Linked DNA regions of Homo sapiens. The protein of the gene in region 3 interacts with the protein of the main gene of each other region in a pairwise test. Each region holds a gene or a part of one and is shown on either strand. Other genes may lie near its edges. The genes, in order: SGF29, TBC1D21, CCDC158, FCHSD2 and SH3GLB2.

Region 1 (3,520 bases), on a different chromosome or scaffold from region 3:
AACCACTGGATTATACACTTTAAATGGGTGCGTTGTATGGCATGTGAATTCTATCTCAGGATAGCTGTCAAACAAAATGAATCATGAAATCCTGTACATGGTAGAAAATCCAACAGGAATGGTAGCCATACACCAAATTCCCCTCCTTTCACTTTTATTACGTCATTTTGGTTCCTGCGAGTCCAATCTCTCTGAACACAAATGCCACCCCCACTTCACGGCTCAGCATCAAAGCCCATGTTCCCATCTGGGAATGGAGGGTGGTGACTTTTTACCTGGGTTTGTTTGATCAGCTGATGGAGCTCTGTGAGAAGTTCTGCAATGCGGGAATCGGCAGACACGAGGGCCATTGTCTACAGGGGCACCTGGTGGGGGAGCGAGGACAGAAGAGAACTCTGTTAGTGGCTGCTGTGGGCTGAACTGTGCCCCCTCAAAAGATACATTAGGCCTGGAGGCTCATGCTGTAATCCCAGCACTTTGGGAGGCCAAGGCGGGAGGATTGCTTGAGGCCAGGAGTTCAAGACCAGCCTGGGCAACACGGAGACCCCGTCTTTACAAAAAAATTAAAAACTTAGCCCGGCATAGTGGCACACATCTGTAGTCCCAGCTATTCGAGAAGCTAAGGTGAGTGGATCGCTAGGCCCTAGGGGGTTGAGGCTGCATGAGCTACGATCGTGCCATTGCACTCCAGCCTACATGACAGTGTGACACCCTATCCCTTTAAAAGATAGTAATAATAAAAAGATACATTGTAGTCCTAACCATGGTACCTGTAATGTCACCTTGTTTGGAATTAGGGTCTTTGGAGAAGTATTTAAGATGTCACTAAGATGAAGTCATAGTGGAATAGGGTGTGCCCTTAATCCAGACACACAGCCAGGTGCAGACAGAAGCAGCGACTGGACTTGGACAGCTGCAAGCCAGGGGATGCCAAGGACTGCCGGCAGCCACCCATCCAGCCGGGAGAGATGCGCGGAGTAACGGCCCCGTCTAAGCCTCCAAGAAGCAACAATCCCTTGTCTTTGGAACCAAGCTGACATCTTGATTTTGGAATTATGGCCCCTAGAACTGTGATGGAATAAATTTCTCTTGTCTTAAGCCACCCAGCTTGCAGTAACTTGTTATGGCAGCCATAAGAAATGAATACAGTGGCAAGCTATCCTTGGATTCTCCTCCACCCTATTGATATGTTTGAATGTCATATGTTCGACGAAGTCAAGGAGTCAAGGAGTGTATAATTTTTGTATATAAATACAAAAATTAATATGAAGTGCCTTAAAAAGATAGCATGCCCTTAGCCCCTGCTCTGCTGCCAATATCCTGACAAATGATTCAAACATTTCTGGTATCCATATTTTAATCTGTAAAATGGGGATCATCTCTGCTATATTTTGGGAGATTCAAATAAGATTTTATATGAAGACACTTTCCAAGTCATAAAACGCTGTTACTTTCTTACTATAGTGGGAAGATAATTTTTTTTTTTTTGAGACGGGAGTCTTGCCCTGTCACCTAGGCTGGAGTGCAGTGGTGTGATCTTGGCTCACTGCAATCTCTGCCTCCCAGGTTCAAGCAATTCTCCTGCCTCAGCCTCCTGAGTAGCTGAGATTACAGGTGTGTGCCACCATGTCCAGCTAATTTTTGTATTTTTAGTAGAGATGGGGTTTCACCATGTTGGCCAGGCTGGTCTCAAACTCCTGACCTCAGGTGATCTGCTTGCTTCAGTCTCCCACAGTGCTGGGATTACAGGCGTGAGCCACCACGCCCAGCCAGCATGGGGAGAGAAACTACTGTAAAATATCTCAATCAAGATGAATGTACTCTGATGAAAATAAAATGCTTCTGTACAATAAAAGATAATTAGGGCCGGGCGTGGTGGCTCATGCCTGTAATCCCAGCACTTTGGGAGGCCGAGGAGGGCAGATCATGAGGTCAAGAGATCAAGACCATCCTGGCCAACATGGTGAAACCTTGTCTCTACTAAAAATACAAAAATTAGCTGGGCATGGTGGTGGGCACCTGTAGTCCCAGCTACTCAGGAAGCTGAGGCAGGAGAATTGCTTGAACCCGGGAGATGGAGGTTGCAGTGCGCCGAGATCACGCCACTGCACTCCAGCCTGGCGACAGAGTGAGACTCCGTCTCAAAAAAAAAAAAAAAAAAAGATAATTAGAACAAGAGTAAAAAGACAACCAAAAGTAATCAAGAGTGTAAGTTACAAGTAGGTGAAAATAGACATATGCCTCAAGATAAAGGTATATTTGATAAAATAAGGGGATATTTTTTACAGTGCTAAAATTTTGCACAATAGCCTGCATCTTACAAAGTTTGTTCAAGCTGGGGGCAGTGACTAACACCTGTAATCCCAGCACTTTGGGAGGCGAAGGTAGGAGGATGGTTTGAGTCCAGGAGCTCGAGATCAGCCTGGACAATACAGCAAGACCCTGTCTCTATTTTTATTTTTTATTTATTTATTTTTTGAGATAGAGTCTTGCTCTGTCGCCCAGGCTAGAGTGCAGCGGTGCGATCTCTGCTCACTGCAACCTCGGCATCCTGGGTTCAAGCGATTCACCTGCCTCAGCCTCCAGAGTAGCTGGGATTACAGGCACCCGCCACCTTGCCTGGCTAATTTTTTGTATTTTTAGTAGAGACGGGGTTTCACCATCTTGGCCAGGCTGGTCTCAAACTCCTGACCTCGTGATCCACCCACCTCGCCCTCTTTTTTTTTTTTTTTTTTAAAGTTGTTCAACTAACACATCCTCCTACTCACAGAGATCAGATTCACGATGAATGGAGTAAACTCTTCCCCCCACTTAATCAACTGCGAACCTCTCGCCATGTATTTATTCATATCTTCTTACATGCTCTGCTGCTGCTATTTAAAAGTATAATAACATACAAACTAGGAATAGAGGGTAACCTCCTCAACCTGATGAAGGGCATCTATGAAAAACCCACAACGAACATCAGACTTAAAGGCGAAAGATTAAAAGCTTTCCCCTAAGTCAGGAACAAGATGAGCATGGGCCCTTGTCATTTCTAGTCAACATTGTTCTGGAGGCTCTCGCCAGGGCAATGAGGCAATAAGATGAAATAAAAGGCATCCACATTGGAAAGGAAGAAGTACAACTATTTCTATTTGCAGATGACATGACCTTGTATATAGAAAACCCTAAGGAATCCATTAAACAACTATTAGGACTAAGACAAGGTTAGAACTCATAGCAAAGTTGCAGGATACGAGATCAATAAACAAAACTCAATTGTGGCCAGGCCCCAGAGGCTCACGCCTGTAATCCCAGCACTTTGGGAGGCTGAGGCGGGAGGATCACTTGCAGCCAGGGGTCCAGACGAGCCTAGGCCACCAGACGAGCCTGAGCCCCACTTCTACTTTATAAATTTTTTAACTTTAAAAAAAGAAAGCTACAGTAATCAAGATGTTGTAAGCAAAGACATCTAGTTCAATGGAATAGAACTGAGAAACCAGAAATGGTCGACTAATTTTCAACAAGGGTGTCAAGA
Region 2 (3,095 bases), on a different chromosome or scaffold from region 3:
ACATGTCATTGGATTTGGGGTCCACCTGGAAAGTCTTACGGATCTCGTCCGGAGATCCTTGACTTAGTCACATCTACAAAGACTCTTTTCCCCCACATGGTTACATTCACAGGTCCTAGGGGTTAGGACATGGATATGTCTTTTTGGAGGCCACCATGCGGCCAGCAATACCAACTAATCATATTCTAATAATGAGGACAAAACACCGCCTCACTCAGCACTTCCAATTCTGAGGCACAGGTGCCAGTATTATGCCCATTCTACAGATGGGGAAACTGAGGCTTAGAGATGGAAAGTCGTGTCCCCAAGACTTGCCCCCAGTGGCAGACACCCCGTTATTAAGATGTAGAGCCAGGATTCAGGTGCAGCGTTTGGAGTACAGAGCCCAAGAAGTTAAACTGTCTCTGTTCTGCAGTCCAGGTGCATGTTGGAGGACAGTTAGGGTGGCACAGGTTGAGATGAGGGACAGCATCACAGGTAGGGTGCATGGCTGGGTGAGGGTGCTGCCCTGGATCTGCCTGGGGCCTGGTAGCTGCAGCTGCTCATTCACCACTTATCAGAAGGGGAAAAGCCACCTTGTTCAGCCTCAGTTCTGTTCTCACAGGAAGAACTACAAGGCCTTATGCCAAATGTATGAGAAGATTCAGCCCCTTCTGGAAAACCTGCACCGGAACTTCACAGAGACTCGCAATAACATTGGTGAGCAAAGTGGGGTGGAGAGGGCTGGGCAGAGGGAGGGCTTGAAGCCAACCCTGCCCCCTTCTCAGCCACTTCCAGGGAGGGATGGCTCCAGGATCCTGGGAGTTGCTTTGACTTGTGCCTGGAGTTTCGCCAGCTGAACCTTGGTTAATCCACCCCACCAGTCTCTCCTGGGTGGCCCTAGATGCCCCATACCATGTTTTCCTGGGTGCATGATGTTCCTGCTGCCTGGTCTTCCTCTCTCCTTTCTTTGGCTTTGAATGAGGTTGGATTTGAACTGGACAGAGAGGAAGGGTGGGGGAGGACATTCCTGGCCGAGGGTACGGCCTCGTTAGAGGGTTGGAGGTGGGAAGAAACACAGACAGCTCAAGGTGTGGTGAGGAACTGAGCCTGGCAGGGGCTGATGTACCTTTCACAGCTCCCTCTCCCTCCAGGATGTCCTAGGGCCTGCCCATTGGGGTAGGGGAAGAAATTCACCCATAGACCTGCTGGATGTGATCTGGTGCCACCTACTTGCCCCTTGCTTCCAACCTAGCACGTGACATTCAGAAAATCTATGACAAAGATCCCCTGGGCAACGTCCTCATCGACAAGAAGAGGCTAGAGAAGATCCTGCTCCTGAGTTACGTCTGCAACACGCAGGCAGGTGAGCCTCAGCCTCCCCTTGTCAATGCCCTCCCAGGACCTGGCCCAACCTAAGCCAAGGGTCCAGGCTCTCCCACCCAGCCCCTCCTCCCCAACCCCCTCTTCGCCACAGAGTACCAGCAGGGCTTCCATGAGATGATGATGCTCTTCCAGCTGATGGTGGAGCACGACCACGAGACCTTCTGGCTTTTCCAGTTCTTCCTGCAGAAAACGGTGAGGGCAAGGCCTGAGCTCAGGGACGCCCCTCCCCAACCCCCCACTACTCCCCAAACAACTCTTTGAGGATGGGCAGGCATTGGCCACCCCAGCCATTCCTTCCAGGCTTCTGGGTCTCAGAGGAGCCTGGGAGGGTGACGCTAAACCCAGTGGTTCAAAGTAGTGGTGGTGGGGAGGCACTGAAGTGGAGAAGGGGGATGGAGCAAAGCTCTGGGTCCACCTCTCAACAAACCTTGAAAGAGCATGGCTGGCCAGGCCCAGGGAAGGTGCCCTCTCCTGGCATTTTCTTCCCCAAGCACGGTTCTCCTCCCTCCTCGCTGCTTCTTCCTCAATGGCTCCCTGTGGCCTCCAGAATAAAATCCAATAACCTTAGCCAGTCATTCAGGGCTGTTCCCTTCACATAACCTGAATTCCAGGCACACCAGGGGACTCAATAGTCCCCAGGGGCTCCCTCACTGTCCAAGTTGAGGGGTTTTGAAGGTGCAGCTCCCTGGAACACCTCCCTGGAAAGCCTTTCCTCATGATCTGCGAGAGGCTGCCCAGAACCCTCCCTCATCCCTCCCTCCACCCCACCATCCCTGCACATGTGCTTGCTGCCCTTCCCTTGTCCCAGTTGGCTCTGCCCCAACACTATTGTGTGAGGGAAGAACTGGGCAACTGGGCTCACTAGACTGTGAGCCACAGTTGAGAATCTCTACTACACACACATACACACACACACACACACACACACACTACACAGCCACCCAGAGGCGTACAACATATACAGACAAACTTGCATACACAGATCACAGTCACATAGATATGTATGCACACACTCACACACACACACTCAGACTCATAGAGACATGGGCCCAGCGCACAGACAGACACACAGAGCCTCCAGAAGTGAAGCTGGGGGAAGCAGAGTTGACTCTTCCGGTGCCTTGAAGCCAAGGGGGACTCAGTCTGTCTCCCACCATCGTGTGCAGGAACACAGCTGTGTCATCAACATTGGCGTGGCCAAGAACCTAGACATGCTCAGCACCCTGATCACCTTCCTGGACCCCGTGTTTGCTGAGCACCTAAGTGAGTGGTTCCCACCTCCTGCCACCTCACGCACCCCCCAGGCATGGGAAGGGGGCTGGGACCCAACTGTCAGTCCCTAATCATGGGGGGGCTGGAGAGCAGCAGAATCATTTGATTGCTTCTCCAGGCCCTGGGAAGAGGGTTATCTGGATGGGGTTGGAGCCTGGACAGTTGAAAGTTGACTCTAAACCATCTCCCAGGGCAGCTGGAAAAGGGGCGGCAGGCTTTTTGTATTTCCCAAGTGTTTTGCAGGCTCTGTAGTTTGGCCTCATCTGCATGTGTTTGCTGCATCATATGTGTTTTCCCCTGACCACAGCCTCACCTTCTCTCCCCACAGAAGGGAAGGGTGCAGGGGCTGTGCAGTCCCTCTTCCCCTGGTTCTGCTTCTGCTTCCAGCGTGCCTTCAAGTCCTTCGATGATGTCTGGAGGCTCTGGGAGGTGAGGTGTCCAGCTAGGGATCATCAGGC
Region 3 (3,520 bases):
TGTATTCTCTACTCAGCCGCTGGAGGATCATATGCCCTTGATTAAAATCCTCCAGTGCTTTGCGTTGCGTTTAGAATAAGCCCCAAAGTCTTCAGTATGTGGCCTTTTCAAGGCCCCATGAGCTTTACCTCCGCCAACCTCACTGACATCTTCTCAGGATAGTGTAGGAAAGGAAGTGATAAGCACAGTGTTCCTTTTGGCATGACACATAGTTGGCCTCCATTAGAAGCCCTCTCATCCCCACTTAGCTACCCTGCAGCCTCATTAGCCTTCTTCACTGGGAGTCAGTGAACACTGAGCTCTTCTCATTTTTGGGCCTTTGTGATGGCATTTCTTTTAAGAAGTTATCCCTGGCCACTGTGAGGCTGACCCCTTTCTGTCATTCAGTTCAATGCCACCTCCTTAGGAAGGCCTTCCCTCACCTACCCTAACTAGAGGAGCTGTGTTAGTCTGTTTTCATGCTGCTAAGACATACCCGAGAGTGGGAAGAAAAAGAGGTTTAATTGGACTTACAGTTCCACATGGCTGGGAAGGCCTCAGAATCATGGTGGGAGGCAAAAGGCACTTCTTACATGGCGGCAGCAAGAGAAAATTACCTCCCCCTGGGTCGCTCCCATGACACATGGGAATTCTGGGATATACAGTTCAAGTTGAGATTTGGGTGGGGACACAGGCAAACCATATCATTCCACCTGTGGCCCCTCCAAATCTCATGTCCTTACATTTCAAAACCAATCATGCCTTACCAGTAGTCCCCCAAAGTCTTAACTCATTTCAGCATTAATGCAAAAGTCTTCAGTCCAAAGTCTCATCTGAGACGAGCCAAGTCCCTTCTGGCTATGAGCCTGTAAAATCAAAAACAAGCTAGTTACTTCCTAGATACAATGAGGGTACAGGTATTGGGTACATATAGCCATTCTAAATAGGAGAAATTGGCCAAAACAAAGGAGTTACAGGGCCCATGCAAATCCAAAATCCAGCAGGGCAGTCAAATTTTAAAGCTACAAAATGATCTCCTTTGACTCCATGTCTCACATCAAGGTCACGCTGATGCGAGAGATGGGTTCCCATGGTCTTGGGCAGCTCCAACCCCTGTGGCTTTGCAGGGTACAGCCTCTCTCCCAGATGCTTTCATGGGCTGGTGTTGAGTGTCTGCAGCTTTTCAGGTGCACAGTGCAAGGTGTTGGTGGATCTACCATTCTGGGGTCTGGAGGATGGTGGCCCTCTTCTTAACAACTCCATTAGGCAGTGCCCAGTAGGGACTCTGTGTGGGGGTTCCAACCCCACATTTCCCTTCAGCACTGAGCTAGCAGAGGTTCTCCATAACGGTCCCATCCCTACAGCAAACTTTTGCCTGGGCATCCAGGCGTTTCCATACATCTGACATCTAGGCAGAGGTTCCCAAACCTCAATTCTTGAGGCCTGTGCACCTTCAGGCTTAACACCACATGGAAGCTGCCAAGGCTTGGAGTTTCCAGTCTCTGAAGCCACAGCCTGAGCTGCACATTGGCCCCTTTCAGCCATGACTGGAGCAGCTGGGACACAGGGCACGAAGTCCCTAGGCTGCACACAGCACAGGGACCCTGGGCTCAGCCCACAAAACCACTTTTTTCTCCTGGGCCTCTGGGCCTGTGTTGGGGTGGGCTGCCATGAAGGTCTCTGACATGGCCTGGAGACATTTTCCCATGGTCTTGGGGATTAACATTAGACTCTGTAGAGTCCAGCCCCACAGGGTCAGTGGGTTTTCTCCCCGTGTGCGGAGATGAGAGAGTGTAGAAATAAAGAGACAAGACAAAGAGATAAAAGACAGCTGGGCCTGGGGGACCACTACAACCAAGACGCGGAGACCGGTAGTGGCCCCAAATGCCAGGCTGTGCTGATATTTATTGGATACAAGAAAAGGGGCAGGGTAAGGAGTGTGAGCCATCTCCAATGATAGGTAAGGTCACATGGGTCCCATGTCCACTGGACAGGGGGCCGTTCCCTGCCTGGCAGCTGAGGCAGAGAGAGAGAGGAGAGAGAGAGAGACAGCTTACACCATTATTTCTGCTTATCAGAGACTTCTAGTACTTTCACTAATTTGCTACTGCTATCTAAAAGGCAGAGCCAGGTGAACAGGATGGAAGATGAAGGCGGACTAGGAGCATGACCACTGAAGGACAGCATCACAGGGAGACGGTTAGGCCTCTGGATAACTGCAGGCGGGCCTGTCAGGCCCTCCACAAGAGGTGGAGGAGTAGAGTCTTCTCTAAACTCCCCCGGGGAAATTGAGACTCCCTTTCCCGGTCTGCTAAGTAGCGGGTATTTTTCCTTGACACTGACGCTACCACTAGACCACAGTCCACTTGAAAATGGGCGTCTTCCCAGACACTGGCATTACCGTTAGACCAAGGAGCCCTTTGGTGGCCCTGTCCGGGCATAACAGAAGGCTTGCACTCATCTTCTGGTCACTTCTCACTATGTCCCCTCAGCTCCTATCTCTGTATGGCCTGGTTTTTCCTAGGTTATGATTGTAGAGTGAGGATTATTATAATATTGGAATAAAGAATAATTGCTACAAGCTAATGATTAATGATATTCATATATAATCATATCTAAGATCTATATCTAGTATAACTATTCTTATTATTTTGTATATTTTATTATACTGGAACAGCTCATGCCCTCGGTCTCTTGCCTCGGCACCTGGATGGCTTGCCGCCCACAGACTCCTTGCTACTTATGCAAATTTCTGCAGCCGGCTTGAATTTCTCCCCAGAAAATGGATTTTCCTTTTCTATCACATAGTCAGGCTGCAAATTTTCCAAACTTTTATGCTCTGCTTCCCTTATAAAACTGAATGGCTTTAACAGTACCCGGGTCACCTCTCTAATGGTTTGCTGCTTAGAAATTTATCCTGCCAGATACCCTAAATCATCTCTCTCAAGATCAAAGTTCCACAGATCTTTAGAGAAGGGGCAAAATGCTACCAGACTCTTTGCTAAAGCATAGCAAGAGTTTACTATGCTTAAAGTTCTTACATAGCAAGAACTTTACTCTAGTTCCCAACAAGTTCCTCATCTCCATCTGACCACCTCAGCCTGGACCTTATTGTCCATATTGTTATTGGCACCTTGGGCAAAGCCATTCAACAATTCTCTAGGAAGTTCACATTTTCCTGTCTTCATCTGAGCCCTCCAAACTGTTCCAACCTCTGCCTGTTACCCAGTTGCAAAGTCGCGTCCACATTTTCTGGTATCTTTTCAGCAATGCCCCACACTACTGGTACCAATTTACTGTATTAGTCTGTTTTCACGCTGCTGTTAAAGACATACTGAGAAGAAGAAAAAGAGGTTTAATTGGACTTACAGTTCCACACGGCTGGGGAGGTTTCAGAATCATGAAGGAGGCAAAAGGCACTTCTTACTTGGCAGCAGCAAGAGAAAATGAAGAAGCAAAAGCGGAAAACCCTTACAACCCCATCGGATCTCATAAAACTTATTCACTATCACAAGAATAGCACGGGAAAGACCGGCCTCCA
Region 4 (3,520 bases), on a different chromosome or scaffold from region 3:
TGTTTAATAGCTCTGATTCTGGAATCGGTCAATTAAGGTTGTAACATTTAACATCTAGGACATCCAGGAAAAATTAACCTCTCTGAGCCTCTGTTTTCTTTTCTATAAAATGATGTGGGACCCACATCATCAGGTTGTTAAAAAAAAAAAAAGTTATATGAAGCACTTTCCATAGTACCTTGCACAATAGAAGTTAGCTATTACTATTTTTATTTAGATTTTGTGGTTTGTTCTTTGTAAATCAGAATCATAGCATTTTAGAGCTAGAAGAAACCCTTGGTGATCATTTGATCTAGCACCCTTATCTTTCATATGAAGCCTGGAGAAAGAGCAAAAGCTGGCTTTTGAGGTTTGGTGGCAAGTTGATGGTGGACCTCTAAAGAGTTCCGTCTGCCTTGGGGCAGGGGGAGGGGTGCAAGATTGTGTTGCTGTTATTATATTGTTTTGTTCTTACTTCTCTTTAATGATTCTTTACTCACATTTAAACTATTAAGTTGTTTCCATTTTTATTTATGCAATGATTTTATCACCATAGTAGGTTGGCATGAATACATTTTCTTCTTTGCTTACCTTAGCTAGCTTCCTTCCCACTCGGAAAGATAAGTCCATCACACCCAAAAAGATAAGTCTGCAGTATTATAGATGATGCTTTTGTGTTCAGCAGTGTAAGACAAAAAGCTTATGGTCTTTAATGGTTTTATGCTGATCTTACTCTTCTGGTAACTTTCTGTGACGTTAAGACATTGCTTCCAGCAGTAGTGGAGCGTGCCTCATGTTTTGAGTGCTGATTAAGTGAAGGCCTTCTGATCCATCTACAAAGCAGTAGTGGTTACAATAAGGATAGCAATATTTTTATCTCTGTTCTCTCTTGTATTGTAGAGCCGACAGTTAGAATCAGAAACTGGGACCACAGAGGAGCACAGTCTAAATAAGGAAGCTCGAAAATGGGCCACACGTGTGGCACGTGAGCATAAAAACATTGTTCACCAACAACGGGTAAGTGTAAGAGAAAGTCCTAGTTACATTCACCTTAAGCCAAATGTCAAACAGTTTAAGGAACTGAGTTTTATTAATGTGAAAAATATCCTATATGTGTTGTTTTGTTTTATTTGAGACAAGAGGCTTGCTCTGTCACCCAGGTTGAAGGGCAGTGGTGTGAACATGGCTTACTGCAGCTTCAACCTCCTGGGCTGAAGCAGTTCTCCCACTTCAGCCTCCCAAGTAGCTGGGACCACAGGCACATGCCACTATGCCTGGCTAAATTTTTTTAGATTTTTTGTAGAGATAGGGTCTTGCCATGTTTCCCAGGCTGGTCTCAAACTCCTTTGCTCAAGCATTATATGTGTTTTTTCTGTACTTTCTCAACACTCAGCAGTGTGCTGTCAGCTATCTACTCATGTTGGAATTTCCTTAAGCCCTCCATCAGCAATACATTAATTTACCTGTTTACCATAAAATTAACAAAGAAAATTGTGATAGTGTATTATGGGCAGGGGAAGAGACATATGTTGAATTAATATAAGTTTTCATCCCTCAAGACATATTTTTTAAAAGACATAATTATAGCCGGGCGCGGTGGCTCACGCCTGTAATCCCAGCACTTTGGGAGGCCGAGGTGGGTGGATCACAAGGTCAGGAGATCGAGACCATCCTGGCTAACATGTGTTACGGTGAAACCCCATCTCTACTAAAAATACAAAAAATTAGCCGAGTGTGGTGGCGGGCACCTGTAGTCCCAGCTACTCGGGAGGTTGAGGCAGGAGAATGGCATGAACCTGGGAGGCGGAGCTTGCAGTGAGCTGAGATCACGCCACTGCACTCCAACCTGGGCGACAGCGAGACTCTGTCTCAATAAAAAGAAAAAAGAAAGACACAATTATAGATTTCATGAAAATATATGTTTGGCTGGGCGCAGTGGCTCACGCCTGTAATCCCAGAACTTTGGGAGGCTGAGGCAAGTGGATTGCTTGAACCAGGAGTTTGAGACCAGCCTGAGCAACATGGCAAAAAACCCGGTGTCTACAAAAAATTCAAAAATTAGTCGGGCATGGGGGCGCACACCTATCTTCCCACCTATTCGGGAGGCTAAGGTTGGGGAGAATTGCTTGAGCCCGGGAGGTGGAGGTTACATTGAGGTAAGATCATGCCTCTGAACTCCAGACTGGGTGACAGAGAAAGACCCTGTCTCCAAAAAAAAAAAAGAAAGAAAGAAAGAAAGAAAATATATCTCGAAGACTAAACTCTAAGCACAAAGAAATTATTTGGAGTATAGTACTTTTTTTCTGTTTCATTTATTGATACCTATATCCGTCTCATTCTTTGCCTTCACATCCTGCTTCTTAAAAGAATTGCCTATGCTTATTATCTATAGAATCTCACCTCCCACTTACTTTTTAGCCCATTACATTTGAGCTTTCCTGTCCTTTCCTTCCCCTGTCTAAGCTTACCAAAATCGCCAATGATGTCTGTGTTGCTAGCTTCCAAGTGGACACTTTGATTTCTCATTTTTCTTAATCTGTCAACAATTTCATCACAATTAACAATTCCATGTCTTAAAATGTTATCTTCTCTAGTCATCCACGATTCAACATTGTCCTGGCTTTCCTTCTGCCTTTCTGGCCATACCTAGATTTTTTCATGGGTTCCTCTTTCTCCATCCCACAATGAAATATTCAGTTTCTCAGATTCCTATACTTGGCTATCTTGTTTTCTTATTCTTTACCCTCATATAGGCATTCTCAGTCACTTCCATGGTTTTACTTTACCACCAAATCATAAATTAACATCTTCAACATTGGGCCTTGCTACTACTGTGTATCCATATAATCTCTTGCCTGTTTTGACATCTTCTTTTCACTATCTCACAGGTGTCTCAAATTCAGTGTTCCACTTATGTAATGTTGCTTAACAAACCACCTCAAACTTAATGCCATAGAACAAGAGGGTTTTTACATTATCTCTCACTAATCTGAGTATTGGATGGTCTCAGCTTAGCAGTTTCCCTTGGGGTCTCTCATGTGGCGGCAATCAGATAGTGGCTGGTCCTGGCTTCCCCACTGAAGGGACTGTCTGTAGTAAGTTTGTTACTAGTAAGTCTATAATTATTTCAAAATGTTCAAAAAATAAATAAATGAAAAAAAATTATGGCTACTAGTCACTAAAGCCCTTTGAATTATGTAAATACTTTAATCACTTAAGGAAGATGAAAAGTAAAAAACAGTCATCATTATTGTCCCATTTTCTTTAATAGGTTCTAAATGATCTGGAGTGTCATGGAGCTGCTGTATCAGAACAAAGCCGAGCAGAGCTAGAACAGAAAATAGATGAAGCTAGAGAAAATATTCGTAAAGCAGAGGTAAGGTGGCAGCTAATTGTGGCATTTTGCCCAGGTCTAATGACACTGTCACAGCTGTGATATACATCTTTAAAACTGAGTTTCTACACACACTGAGATGAAGGTGATTCACCGTCTTCATTCGTGTCCACAGTAGTATTTGTTGAGTACCTGCTCTGTGGAAGG
Region 5 (3,520 bases), on a different chromosome or scaffold from region 3:
GCCGTGTGGATAAAATCCCTCTCCGCGGCTCCCAGTTGCTTTTCAGCTTCTGCCACCTTGATCAGTGTCTTCCCTGAGAAAACAGAGTTGAAGCGTGAGGAAGAAGGTCAGGCTCAGGCTACTCTGATCTACAGGAGAGGGCTCAGGAAGAGCTTGCTGAAGAGCAAGGGCCGGGGTGCTCAGTGCAGAATGCTTTGCCTGGGAAAAAGCAGAAGCAACCTACACTACACCATCAACTGGGAACTAACAAATAAACAATGGGACAGCCAAAATATGGAACACAATGCAGCCATTATAAAGATCGGGGTTAGACTTCCAGAATGTCAGAGAAAGGAGCTCAACAAATCCCCTCCCAAAAAAAGTAACAATAAAACTGGACACCACGCCAGGTGCGGTGGCTCACACCTATAATCCTAGCACTCTGGGAGGCCGAGACGGGAGGATCACTTGAGCTCGGCAGTTCCAGACCACCCTGGGCAACATAGGGAGACCTTATCTCTTTGAAAATAAAACAAATTGAAAGAAAACTGGACACAATTGTCAAAAACATCCATTTCTGGACTCTGCAAATTGACCAAGGCAAAAAACAAATTGAAAAGCATTTAATCAAGAAAAACTACTGGGCTGGATGCTGTGGCTCACACCTGTAATCTCAGCACTTTGGAAAACCAAGGTGGGCAGACTGCTTGAACCCAGCTGTTCAAGACCAGCCCGGGCAACATGGCAAAACCTTGTCTTTATAAAAAATAAATAGAAAATCATAAGAAAAATGAGCAGCGCCTCAGCACCTACGGGGCACTGTCAAGTGAACCAACATATGACTAACAAGAGTCCCAGAAGAGGAGGAGAAAATAAGGCAGAAAAAATATGTGAAGAAACAATAAGAGGCTGGGCGCGCTGGCTCACACCTGTAATCCCAATACTCTGGGAGGCCCAGGCGGAAGGATCATTTGAACCCAGGAGTTTGAGGCTATAGTAGTAAGCTATGATTGCACCACTGCACTCCAGTCTGGGTGACACAGCAAGATCCTGTCTTTAAAAAAAAGAAAAGAAAAGAAAAAACATGGTTTGATTCATCACATACAAGAGAGCTAAAATAAGATGAATTGTCTTCTCATTAGAAACAATAGAAGCCAGACAGCAGTAAGATAATATATTCAAAGTAAAGAAAAAATTGTTCATCCAGGAATTCTATATATAGCAAAACAATCCTTCAAAAGTGAAGGCAAGGCCGGGCGCAGTGGCTCACGCCTGTAATTCTAGCACTTTGGGAGGCTAAAGTGGGTGGGTCACTTGAGGTCAGGAGTTCGAGACCAACCTGGACAACATGGCAAAACCTCGTCTCTACTAAAAATACAAAAATTAGCTGGGTGTGGTGGTGTGCATCTGTAATTCCAGCTACTTGGGAGACTGAGGCAGGAGAATTGCTTGAACCCAGGAGGCAGAGGTTGCAGTGAGCCAACGTCACACCACTGTACTCCAGCCTGGGCAACAAGAGCAAGACTGTCTTTAAAAAAAAAAAAAAAAAAAAAAAAAAAAAAAGATACGGCCGGGTGCGGTGGCTCACACCTGTAATCCCAGCACTTTGGAAGGCTGAGGCAGGCGGATCATGAGGTCAGGAGTTCAAGACCAGCCTAACCAACTTGGTGAAACCTGTCTCTACTAAAAATACAAAAATTAGCCAGGCGTGGTGGCAAGCACCTGTAATCCCAGCTACTCAGGAGGCTGAGGTAGGATAATCGCTTGAAACCGGGAGGTGGAGGTCGCAGTGAACCAAGATCGCACCACTGCACTCCCGCCTGGGTGACAGAAAAAAAAAAAAATCCAAAGATACACTTTAAATTTAAAGACATGAATGGGCTGAAAAAAGTACACCATGTATGCAGTAACCACGAGAGAGTTAACGTGGCTATACTACTACCAGACAAAATAGACTTTAACACAAAATAGTACTAGAGACAAAGAATAGTATTTTATAATGAAAGAGTCAATTCATCAGGAAGATGCACAAATATAAACATACAGACCTAAGACAGTTCCAAAATACATAAGGCAAACACTGACAAAGAGAGAAATAAGATAATTCAACAGTAATAGTTGGAAACTTGAATACTCTGCTCTTTTTTTTTTTTTTTTTTTTTGGTCTCACTCTGTCTCCCAGGCTGGAGTGCAGTGGCGCGCTCTTGGCTCGCTGCAACCTACGCCTCCCGGGTTCCAGCAATTCTCCTGCCTCAGCCTCCCAAGTAGCTGGGACTATAGGCGCGCACCAGCATGCCCAGCTAATTTTTTTGTATTTTTAGTAGAGACAGGATTTCACCATGTTGGCCAGGCTGGTCTTGAACTCCTGACCTCAGGTGATCCAACCACTTTGACCTCCCAAAGTGGCGGGATTACAGGTGTGAGCCACCATGCCCAGCCTCAATAGTCTACTCTTGATAATGAATAGGACAAGACAAAATCAGCAAGGACATACAAGCCTTGAACACTATTAACCGATGTGGCCTCGCTGACACCTATACAGCACTGCACCCTCAACAGCATAATATCACATCTTCTCAAGTGAACCTAGGACATTCCCCAGATAGACCATATACTAGGTCATGAAACAAGTCTCAATAAATTTAAAAGGATTAAAACAATAAAAATATGAGGCTGGGTGTGCTGGCTCATGCCTGTAATCCCAGCACTTTGGGAGGCTAAGGCAGGCGGATCACTTGAGATCAGGAGTTTGAGACCAGCCTGGCCAACATGGTGAGACCCCCATCTCTATTAAAAATACAAAAAATACGCCGGGTGTGATGGCTCACACCTGTAATCCCAGCACTCTGGGAGGCCAAGGTGGGTGGATCACGAGGTCAGGAGATCGACTATCCTGGCTAACACGGTGAAATCCCGTCTCCACTGAAAAAAAAAAAAATTAGCCTGGCATGGTGGCAGGTGCCTGTAGTCCCAGCTACTTGGGAGGCTGAGGCAGGAGAATGGCATGAACACGAGAGGCGGAGGTTGCAGTGAGCCGAGATCGTGCCACTGCACTCCAGCCTGGGCGACAGAGCGAGATTCCGTCTCAAACAAAAAAAAAAAAAAAAAAAATTAGCTGGGTGTGATTATAGGTGCGTGATGGTGCGTGCCTGTAATCTCAGCTACTCAGAAGGCTGAGAGGCTGAGGTGGAGGATCCCTTGAACCTGGGAAGTGGAGCTTGCAGTGAGCCCAGATGGCACCATTGCACTCCAGCCTGGGCGACAGAGCGAGACTCCATCTCAAAATAATAATAATACTAACATAGCACGACATGTTCATACATTCTCTGATCGCAGTGGAATTAAGTTAAAAGCAACAATAGAAGAAAACCCAGAAAATCCACAAATATCTGAAAATGAAACAACACACTACTGACAGGAATAAAAAAATCATACAGCTACTTTGGAAAACAGTTTGGCAACTTCTTAAAAAGTTAAATTAAATTGGCTGGGCGCAGTGGCTCACGCCTGTAATCCCAGCACTTTGGGAGGCCAAGGCGGG

Evidence for each region.
Region 1: the proteins of CCDC158 (region 3) and SGF29 interact in a two-hybrid assay, tested with the Homo sapiens proteins (one large-scale study listed by BioGRID and IntAct).
Region 2: the proteins of CCDC158 (region 3) and TBC1D21 interact in a two-hybrid assay, tested with the Homo sapiens proteins (one large-scale study listed by BioGRID).
Region 4: the proteins of CCDC158 (region 3) and FCHSD2 interact in a two-hybrid assay, tested with the Homo sapiens proteins (one large-scale study listed by BioGRID and IntAct).
Region 5: the proteins of CCDC158 (region 3) and SH3GLB2 interact in a two-hybrid assay, tested with the Homo sapiens proteins (one large-scale study listed by BioGRID and IntAct).

The regions. Positions count from the first base shown.
Region 1 is NC_000016.10:28,577,900-28,581,419, reverse strand, and holds part of SGF29 (SAGA-associated factor 29), read right to left. Parts: intron 366-3,520; 5' UTR 351-365; coding exon 276-350; intron 1-275. UniProt on the Homo sapiens protein: Chromatin reader component of some histone acetyltransferase (HAT) SAGA-type complexes like the TFTC-HAT, ATAC or STAGA complexes.
Region 2 is NC_000015.10:73,883,547-73,886,641, forward strand, and holds part of TBC1D21 (TBC1 domain family member 21), read left to right. Parts: intron 1-604; coding exon 605-699; intron 700-1,234; coding exon 1,235-1,345; intron 1,346-1,456; coding exon 1,457-1,557; intron 1,558-2,531; coding exon 2,532-2,628; intron 2,629-2,965; coding exon 2,966-3,066; intron 3,067-3,095. UniProt on the Homo sapiens protein: Acts as a GTPase-activating protein for Rab family protein(s). Essential for the establishment of male fertility, and is required for both the production of normal sperm number and sperm function.
Region 3 is NC_000004.12:76,414,642-76,418,161, reverse strand, and holds part of CCDC158 (coiled-coil domain-containing protein 158), read left to right. Parts: intron 1-3,520.
Region 4 is NC_000011.10:72,887,305-72,890,824, reverse strand, and holds part of FCHSD2 (F-BAR and double SH3 domains protein 2), read left to right. Parts: intron 1-879; coding exon 880-996; intron 997-3,250; coding exon 3,251-3,355; intron 3,356-3,520. UniProt on the Homo sapiens protein: Adapter protein that plays a role in endocytosis via clathrin-coated pits. Contributes to the internalization of cell surface receptors, such as integrin ITGB1 and transferrin receptor.
Region 5 is NC_000009.12:129,014,832-129,018,351, forward strand, and holds part of SH3GLB2 (endophilin-B2), read right to left. Parts: intron 1,029-3,520; exon of another isoform or gene 909-1,028; intron 74-908; coding exon 1-73.